Linked DNA regions of Homo sapiens: regions 2 and 3 are each reported to be linked to region 1. Evidence: microRNA targets listed by miRTarBase, many of them from high-throughput screens and not tested one by one. Region 1 holds a microRNA gene; each other region holds the end of a gene's coding sequence.

What was found. Region 1 holds the annotated microRNA hsa-miR-4678 (AAGGUAUUGUUCAGACUUAUGA, at 1,853-1,874, shown strand). A microRNA usually pairs through its seed, bases 2 to 8, with sites in the 3' UTR of a target mRNA and lowers its output. Matches are read on the target gene's strand: a 7mer-m8 pairs with bases 2 to 8, a 7mer-A1 pairs with bases 2 to 7 and ends in A, and an 8mer does both.
Region 2: miRTarBase lists SULT1B1 as a target of hsa-miR-4678. Seed matches in the 3' UTR shown: 7mer-A1 at 1,920-1,926.
Region 3: miRTarBase lists NRARP as a target of hsa-miR-4678. Seed matches in the 3' UTR shown: 8mer at 1,636-1,643 and 7mer-m8 at 2,165-2,171.

What each region holds. Positions count from the first base shown.
Region 1 is chr10:87,502,038-87,505,294 of GRCh38, forward strand. MIR4678 (microRNA 4678) reads left to right here and starts at 1,844; the gene lies at 1,844-1,917. MINPP1 (multiple inositol-polyphosphate phosphatase 1) reads left to right here and starts at 2,856. Exons shown (of 5, transcript NM_004897.5): 1 at 2,856-3,257. The coding sequence starts at 2,879. It overlaps LOC112268064 (a long non-coding RNA gene), which reads right to left and starts at 2,797. Exons shown (of 2, transcript XR_002957094.2): 1 at 2,298-2,797. RefSeq lists enhancers at 2,826-2,915, 3,076-3,135.
Region 2 is chr4:69,724,585-69,727,841 of GRCh38, forward strand. It overlaps SULT1B1 (sulfotransferase family 1B member 1), which reads right to left. Exons shown (of 8, transcript NM_014465.4): 8 at 1-2,616. The coding sequence ends at 2,504. Among named protein-coding and RNA genes, the nearest start is that of SULT1B1, 34 kb to the right of the region's middle.
Region 3 is chr9:137,298,744-137,302,000 of GRCh38, reverse strand. It overlaps NRARP (NOTCH regulated ankyrin repeat protein), which reads left to right. Exons shown (of 1, transcript NM_001004354.3): 1 at 1-2,370. The coding sequence starts at 73. The coding sequence ends at 417. Among named protein-coding and RNA genes, the nearest start is that of NRARP, 1.9 kb to the left of the region's middle. RefSeq lists enhancers at 1-431, 2,231-3,124 and silencers at 493-572, 643-702, 823-872.

The DNA of each region.
Region 1 (3,257 bases):
ACTTTCCCATTTCTCTCAGTTGCAAATCCAAACCATTTTCACATTTCAAGACTTAATTCCTATTCCCCCATCTTTCAAACTTGTCTCCTATGTTACTGTGGAAACTGAGGCCATCAGACTTGAATTCTATGAACTCTCTCCTGCCAGATCTACAAATTTATCCCCATGTTCACCCATCCTTCTAACATTCTCTTAGAAGATAAGGTCTCATCTCCTTCTGGCCCAAATCAAATTCTCTACCTGTGTTTTTGGTTCTGTCCTCTCCCATCTCTGCAAGGACCTTGAACCATTAATTTTCCTTTCTGCCTCTTGTATTGTGTTAGATTTGCCAAATATATTGCTCCCATACCCACAATTTCTTATGAGGGGAGGTGATGTTCCCATGATCTCTGCAAAGGAATAGCCATGTTTCGCACTATGCAAACTTCTCTGTACTACATGATTGGACCAAGTGGGCACCTATGTCAAAGGGCATCCAATTTACAGAGTGCCCAGATAATTCAGACATGGTCTGGCATGAAATGAGGAGCACGGCCTGTGACCTTTTTAAATTTTTTCAAAGGCTGCTTAGTGCTCTAAGAACAAGATATCCATTTTAAGTGAAATGAGTGGATTTTTATTATTAGAAAAGTTATGAAATGATCTTTGATGCATGTGTTGCCTGTGAAAGTCATTCACTTTAATGTTCAGTGGGAGTAAGTGTAATCCATGTAATTGCTAGAAAGCTAGGCATCTTAGCACAGGAATAATCACACTGAACATTAGTAATGATAAAAATATCATTTATAGCGGCCTATCATATGGATTTTAAATACATCATCTCTGTCATGATAATCCCATGATATAGGTTCTAATATTACCAATTTTCAGATAAAAAAAAAAAACTAAGGCCCAGAGAACTTGGGTCACTCAATTAATAAGCAGCAGAGCTAATTAGAGTCTGGGTCCAAAGCTTAAGCACTCTTCGTCTTCTTTATATTTGGCTTTTTCCTAGCCAAAAACATGGAGGCATTGCTTACTTTTACTTTATCATTGTTATCTTGGCATAACATCAAAATAATTAGGAGCTGATATACCTAAGTGTATAAAACAGGATAAAATTAATTGATGAGGAATTAGATAAGGAAAATAAAATCAAACTAGGGGCAAATTTCATGTATAAAAATGTGTACTGTGCCATACATTTTGTAAGTGGAGTCTCTAAAGATTGCTTCATAAGGAAGAAGTGAATAATGACTTTGGGAACACTTGGTAACCCCTAGGACTCAAAAGATTGGGTGTGAGAAGTTATTAGTAAGCATATGTATTAGGCAAAATACAGTGAGATGAACCTGGAACAAATGCTCGCTGAATGCACTTAGAAATATTATCAGGCGACTCAGCCTATAGAGCATACGGGTTAGAATGTCTATTTTAAGAAGGAGCGGATATTTACTAAATGCTAATTTGAGCAAAGTTCTACAAAAATATCACTGACCATGAATATTCAGGCATTGACATGCTACAAAATAGCATATCGAAAAGAACATCTGTTGCCCTAAAGATGGTTTCCTGCACAGAACGTCTCCAAATTTTCAGCATTCATAGGCTGGCCCCGTTTCTTCTTGGTTAACATTTAGAGGCACGCCTAAACTTAGAGGAACACCTCTCTAAACCAAGGAGACACTTAAAGAGAAAAGGAGTAAAGATGGTGATGGGCTTATAAAGAGCAATGTAATAGTGTCTTTGAAGCAAAAGCTAACTTAATGAAAACGTGGTCCCAATTTCCTTAAATCTGGATCACCGTACGACTTCTGTAATACTTATTATTTCCCCAGCTGGCAAATAAACTGGAGTTCAAGTGGGAAAAAACAAGGTATTGTTCAGACTTATGATTTTTGGGGTCAAAGATTCTGAGCAATAACCTATTAAAAAACCCAGCTTTTGATTTGAGTATGTAAGTAAGTACATGGGAGGAACGTATGGATCTGGAGTGGTGGTAAATACAGAGCATGTTTGCTTCGCAAAGCAGATTAGCTCATACTTAATAATAGAGTAAATCTGTTGGGCCATGACTCAATGCACCCAAATTCTCTAGATTGCTATGTCTCTACTCGCTAAGCCTTCGGGAACAACAAGCACAGAACTTTTAGGGTGCTGTCTCACTGATGTCGGCGTTAGCTCTGGTAGTCCAGGTCAAGATTATACCAAAGATTCAGGACTTAAATTCCTGCAGAATGTAAGCCCCTTTCCAAGTTCTCTGCTTTACTGTATCCTGTTTATTTTCAAACTCAAATGGAAAAAAACGAAACAAAAACCTTGGGCTTCAAGAGGCATCCTGCCGCAAGGCCCAGCGATGTGAATTTTCAACAACCGTCTCAGGCAGATTTCATGCTGATGGTTCAGGCACTAAACTTTGAAAAACACAGTATCACAGAGTAGGGATGGTGATGTAAGAGTCATCTGTAAAAGCTGTGCTGTTTTGGCAGCCTGGGAGGCTAAGGTTTAGTCTAGGCGACTAAGGTTTAGTCCGGGCTGTATTCACACCCAAAACAACTAAAAAAGCGGAGGAGTCTTTGAGTCAATCCCTGAAGCTCCGGCTAAGAGGAAACTCGCCCACGCTCCAGGGCAGCGACGCCGGCTCCACCTCAGCCACGGCTGTCTCAAGCTTCTCGGGGTTTTCCGCCGGCTCCACCCGAGCCACAAGTCTACAGGACTCCTCGGAGCTTTCCGCCGGGACGCAAGACCCACCGCCAGAGGTTGGTACCTCCTAGAGAACAGCGAAGCGCATCCCGAGGGCCGCCGGCCGGAAGCGCCCTCCAGACCCGCCCCCTGCCCTCCGGAGCCGGAAGCTGGGCATCTGCAGCTGGCTCGGCGCACTCCACTGACCGTCCCGACGATGCTACGCGCGCCCGGCTGCCTCCTCCGGACCTCCGTAGCGCCTGCCGCGGCCCTGGCTGCGGCGCTGCTCTCGTCGCTTGCGCGCTGCTCTCTTCTAGAGCCGAGGGACCCGGTGGCCTCGTCGCTCAGCCCCTATTTCGGCACCAAGACTCGCTACGAGGATGTCAACCCCGTGCTATTGTCGGGCCCCGAGGCTCCGTGGCGGGACCCTGAGCTGCTGGAGGGGACCTGCACCCCGGTGCAGCTGGTCGCCCTCATTCGCCACGGCACCCGCTACCCCACGGTCAAACAGATCCGCAAGCTGAGGCAGCTGCACGGGTTGCTGCAGGCCCGCGGGTCCAGGGATGGCGGGGCTAGTAGTACCGGCAGCCGCGACC
Region 2 (3,257 bases), not on the chromosome of region 1:
CAAAGCTGGAAGCATCATACTACCTGACTTCAAACTATACTACAAGGCTACAGTAACCAAAACAGCATGGTACTGGACCAAAACAGAGATATAGACCAATGGAACAGAACAGAGCCCTCAGAAATAATACTACACATCTACAATTATCTGATCTTTGACAAACCTGACGAAAACAAGCAATGGGGAAAGGATTCCCTATTTAATAAATGGTGCTGGGAAAACTGGCTAGCCATATGTAGAAAGCAGAACCTGGATCCCTTCCTTACACCTTATACAAAAATTAATTCAAGATGGATTAAAGACTTAAATGTAAGACCTAAAACCATAAAAACCCTAGAAGAAAACCTAGGCAATATCATTCAGGACATAGGCATGGGCAAGGACTTCATGTCTAAAACACCAAAAGCAATGGCAACAAAAGCCAAAATTGACAAATGGGATCTAATTAAACTAAAGAGCTTCTGCACAGCAAAAGAAACTACCATCAGCGTGAACAGGCAACCTACAGAATGGGAGAAAATTTTTGCAATCTACTCATCTGACAAAGGGCTAATATCCAGAATCTACAAAGAACTCAAACAAATTTACAAGAAAAAAAAAACAACCCCATCAACAAGTGTGCAAAGAATATGAACAGATACTTCTCAAAAGAAGACATTTATGCAGCCAACAGACACATGAAAAAATGCTCATCATCACTGGCCATCAGGGAAATGCAAATCAAAACCACAATGAGATACCATCTCACACCAGTTAGAATGGCAATCATTAAAAAGTCAGGAAACAACAGGTGCTGGAAAGGATGTGGAGAAATAGGAACACTTTTACACTTTTGGTGGGAGTGTAAACTAGTTCAACCATTGTGGAAGACAGTGTGGCAATTCCTCAGAGATCTAGAACTAGAAATACCATTTGACCCAGCCATCCCATTACTGGGTATATACCCAAAGGATTATAAATCATGCTGCTATAAAGACACATGCACACGTATATTTATTGCGGCACTATTCACAATAGCAAAGACTTGGAACCAACCCAAATGTCCATCAATGATAGACTGGATTAAGAAAATGTGGCACATATACACCATAGAATACTGTGCAGCCATAAAAAATGATGAGTTCATGTCCTTTGTAGGGACATGGATAAAGCTGGAAACCATACTTTTCAGCAAACTATTGCAAGAACAAAAAAACCAAACACCTCATGTTCTTAGTCATTGGTGGGAATTGAACGATGAGAACACTTGGACACAGGAAAGGTAACATCACACACTGGGGCCTGTTGTGGGGTGGAGGGAGGGGGGAAGGATAGCATTAGGAGGTATACCTAATGTAAATGACGAGTTAATGGATGCAGCACACCAACATGGCACATGTATGCATATATAACAAACCTGCACATTGTGCACATGTAACCTGGAACTTAAAGTATAATAATAAAATGTACATATATATATATATATATATATATATATATATATATATATATATATATAAATGTTCCAAGAAAACATAGATCAGAGACCACACAAATAGATATAAGCATGTAATAATAAGTAGAAGGAACATTGGGTCAAGAGGGCAGAGTGGAGATTCAGCCTAGAGAGTCTTCCTTGGGCACCAGATTGGGAAATATTTTGCAGAGGTTATGATCATGTCTAGGATATTAAAGGTGCTATTAAGGTATCCAAATCTATCCAAATATAAGATTAAGTAACTGAAGTTCCCAAATGGTGACCAGAACACAGCAGTAGGTGATTTCTCTGAAGTTCAAACGGGTCTGTTGGGAAAAAGAGGACTCCCCATAAGAAGTAGGTCACAGCCCTCAGGGCTGCTTTTCAGAACAGAGCTCCAGTTCCCAGGTAACCAATCCTACAGAGACTATTGTAGGCGTTTGCCTTTCGGAGACTTAGACATTAGGTATGATATAGAAAAAAGATTTCCAAAATCTGAACTACATGATCGGGGACATGAACTTTGTTATCCAAATAGAGGCACTGCAGGAAGATGAGCTATGACTCAGAGAACAACTTGAAACTCGGTAGACAGCAGTGGAACACAGTGTCCTGGGTCAAATTTTCGGCAAAGGGAAATTGGGGCAGAGTTAGGAAATATAGTCTCATTATGAAAACAGCATTTCTTGGACCATGGTACTAGGGAGGGGAACTTAATTCTAAATCATAATATATGGGAGATTAAGTAAAATAAATCCCTTCTTTCTTATCAGTACTAGTGTAGAAAAAGGCAGGAAGAGCCTGTGGTTACATTGTTCCTTTGTTACAAAAAGTTAACAATGAACTTTAGCCTTAGAGAATTTGGAAACTCAGAATCAAAGGAACAAAACTGGGATCTGATTAATAACATTGAAAAGAATCAACATATTAAAAGCATATTATTCTCCTTTATAAATTCATTTGATTGCCCAAATCAATTCATAACTGCCCTCGTTTCAATCAACTACAGACAATCTCTTATTTCTTCAGATGTGTGATTTAGACACTTTAAATCTCTGTGCGGAATTGAAGTGCAGTTTTGGACATTTCTGTCTCATAAATAGCATCAAATTTCTCATTTTGGGCCACGGTGAAGTAATTCTTCCAGTCACCAGCCGTCCCTAAAGGTAAATAAAAAAACATAGGAAAGAATAAAATATTTCCATAAGAAGAAATCAGTATATACCAAAGGAAAAGATTAGAAGGCCTAAAGAAAGACCTTCCTTTTATTTGAATGAATTCAAACAGTCTTTAAATTGTATTAACCTTTAAATTTTTCAGGCTTTTAAAATTTGAATAATTTTTTACATCTGGAAAGGTGGTTTATAATTAAATAGAGTCTGACATTTGAAGAGGCATTCTGAGAAAGACTAATTTTCTTGTTTAAATTCCTGGGCTTTACAATAGTTTCCCAAGAGTGATAATTTTACTGTTTCTAATGGTCGTAGGTCATGAGATTATCACTGAGCACTTGGATCAATAGTCAGGCATATTTTATTTCACAAAGTAATTTTTGGAAACTAGACAAAAAATTAGTCATCAGCACAGCAAAACTGTGAAATAAAAAGTTGATAAGTATCATTTCCTAGAATTTATAAACAAGGATGCTATGATATGGAGATGACAGTTGTTTTTCCTAAATTCACTAGGCTTGTTCTTTATTTGTAATTTAGGTGGGAATAATAACATTAATATCAAATATATAACATCCTGGAACCATGTTTTTTAAAGTAAATCTTTGAGGATAAAAATTTAAATTTAG
Region 3 (3,257 bases), not on the chromosome of region 1:
CCGGGGGCCCGCGCCGCAGCCGCCGCCCGCGCTGAGCCCCGGCCCGGCCCGCGGCCCGCGCCCGGCGGCAGCATGAGCCAGGCCGAGCTGTCCACCTGCTCCGCGCCGCAGACGCAGCGCATCTTCCAGGAGGCTGTGCGCAAGGGCAACACGCAGGAGCTGCAGTCGCTGCTGCAGAACATGACCAACTGCGAGTTCAACGTGAACTCGTTCGGGCCCGAGGGCCAGACGGCGCTGCACCAGTCGGTCATCGACGGCAACCTGGAGCTCGTGAAGCTGCTGGTCAAGTTCGGCGCCGACATCCGCCTGGCCAACCGCGACGGCTGGAGCGCGCTGCACATCGCCGCGTTCGGTGGCCACCAGGACATCGTGCTCTATCTCATCACCAAGGCGAAGTACGCGGCCAGCGGCCGGTGATGCCCGCCGGGACCCCGGACCCCGGCCCTGCGCCCGCGTCGTCTCTGCTGTACCTTCCCGCCAACTACCTCGGTGCGCGCCCGGCTCGCAGGCCCCGCCAGAAGGCCCGTGGCCACGGCGAATACGGCGCGTGCGTCCCGGCCCCAGGGTCCGGCAGCCCCGCCGGCCGAGCGCCTCCCTGCGGCCTAGCCGGGCCCGGCCGGGCCGGAGCAGCTTCCCACGGCCCCCACCCGCTCGCCTGCCCGCCGCCTCGCGGGTGGGGGCGGGGCGCGGGCTCCAGCCCCTTTTGAAATTTGAGTCTCGCAACCAGCAAGTTCGGAATCCCGAGATACCGGATCCTCTGCGCAAAATGTTTTCTCCCGAAGGTGAAAGGCGGGCGGCGGGAGCCGAAGGCGGACTCGGAGCGCTCCGCCGCCGCCTTCAGGACCCGCCCGCAGGCCCGGGACGCGCCGATGCCGGCTGCAGCCGAGGAGCAGCCCCGAGGTCCGAGGTCCGCGCCGCTGGCGCGCGGCCGAGGAGACGCTCGGCTGTTCGCTGTTGCTGGTGTTCTAAACTATTTATCTTGTGTGTGTACATTTGTGGGTGGAGTTTGTGCGCCTGGTTTTTTTGTTTGGAAAACACTGCGTGGTCAATGTGGTTATGGGGGGGAGTGATGCATTTTTTTCTAGTCTTAAAACTAAAAACTTGAGTCTACCATTTCTTGGTTGCACTGAAAATACCGCCCAGCCTGATGGTGTTCCCGTGCTGTCCCTCCCCCTTCCCTTCTCCCCGCGTCTACCTCCCCACCCCGTTCTGTTCCCCCTCCCTCCTTCTCCCTCTCCCTCAAATCCGTGAGTTTTGGAAGCCCCAGGGCCTCTCTCCCCCGCCCCTCCTGGATGAGGCCACCATCCCCCAAACCGGCTTGTTTTGCAGTTTCCCCAGGATCCTGGAAGCTCGCTGGCGCTCGAGGGTGGCGGGGACACGGGGGGGTGGGTGAAGGTTCGTTACCTTTTCTAGTGCGTTCTATCATAGTTAACGGTTGCACACTTTTTTAAAAAAAGTAAATGGATTTGCCACAATTAAATGTCATAACATTTATGACAGAATATAAAATATTAACATATTTTAAGCCAAGTTTTAGGTGTATTTTTTGAATCTTGGTTATAAACCCAATTTTAAAGGGCGATGTATCCAGCGTTGTGAAGGCAACAGAGTGTACCCATATTTATATTTTTATAAAATACCTATAAGACTGTGAATCTCTTGTGCTAATGGCTGAGTTAATTGAAGGATCGTTTTGCCCCTTTTTAGCCTCCCAGAGCTTCGAGGACTCAATTCGAACCCGAAATCCTGCCGTGGGGGAGGGGTTGCGTCGAGACCTGGGCCCGGGGAGGTTCTCCTGCGTCACTTTCTGTCCTGAAAGGCGCCCTTCCTGGTTTCTGTGGCTCCAATTTTCTATGCAGCCCCACACCCCTTGTTGTTTTGATCCTGAGAAATAAAAGGGAGGCTGAATTATTCAAATTTAAATGAGGTTTCCCCTTCATGGAAGTGCTGCTGACCCTTCGTGCAGAAATGGGGAGCACTTGAGGACACAGGTGGGTGGAGGCCCTTTGTGCGTGGCTGGTCGTATTCGGGCAGCCCTCCGTCGCTTTTTATAAAACTTTGTGTGAGAAGAATATATTGATAATGTCAGTGAAACAAGCAGACATTGAAATGGAGGCACAGATTACTCCACAAGGAGTTCTTCTGTATATTTTTTCTAGATGCAAATACCTTTTTAATTATGTTAATTAATGTTAAGACTTTCTAGGCTTATATCGAAGCTGTGTGTGGGTCACGGGGTGATCACTGCTAACTGGATAAAGTTTGTGCAGCACATTCCTGAGTGTACGATATTGACCTGTAGCCCAGCGTGAAAAATTTATAAATAAATTTTTCATTGATCTTTTTATATTAAAAAAAAGTTTCTTGGTCCTTCTTGGCTTTGGCACAAGTTGCAGAACACCCTCTCTGGGGACGAGGGTCAGGCTGTGACACGGTTTGTGGGTGCTGGGTGCACAATGCTTGGCTTGTATTTGTCTGAAGACAGAGCCTGGTAAACTCGCTCCCAGCCCCACGCAACGGCCAAGCCCAACCCGGCTGCACACAGGACTCACGAGGACCCAGCACCTCCAGCGTGCCCAGAGCTGGTGTCACAGCCTCTGCTCTGTTCCCCAGCAAAGCAGCTGAGACCTCCGCTGGAGAGGAGAGTTCGGCCTGAAGCCCTGCCCACTCTGACCCGCTAGGGGGTCATGCTGGAGGCTGCCTGCTGCACAGAAAGTGTATCTTGTAAATTGGGGGGAAATCCCATAGCTGCTCACTCCTGGCAGGTAGAAAGTCCCCTGGAGGCACCCGGGAGCTTTGGAGGCCTGCACAGGCCTGGAGTCAAAACACCCCAAAGAGCACAGACCCTGAGTTAGACGAGCATCGGGGCCGGGCACTCCCATTCGCAAGAAAGGAGAGCAGAGCAGGATGGCTGTTGCTGGCACCTGACAGAAAGGAGCAGAGACTCTTGGTCCACTCCTGAGATGCCCTTGGGGCCCTGGGGGCCCTGTACCGGGCTGCAAGGGAGCACACCCGCCCCCAGCAAGAGCAGCCAGCAGAGAGAACTTGGAGAAGGGCAAAGACCGGGAGTTACAAGGTAACAACTTTTCAAACCCCTCTGCCGAATGTAAGGGGAATCTGCTTCCCTAAACCGTGTCCGCAGAAGGGCTGCCCTTCCCACAAACTTTCCCCACGCCTCCGCCTTCCTACTCTGCACTGCCGCCCTGTTTACCCTTGGTTTTCCAGGCGCGTTTTCCGTCGGTTACGCATTTCCTATC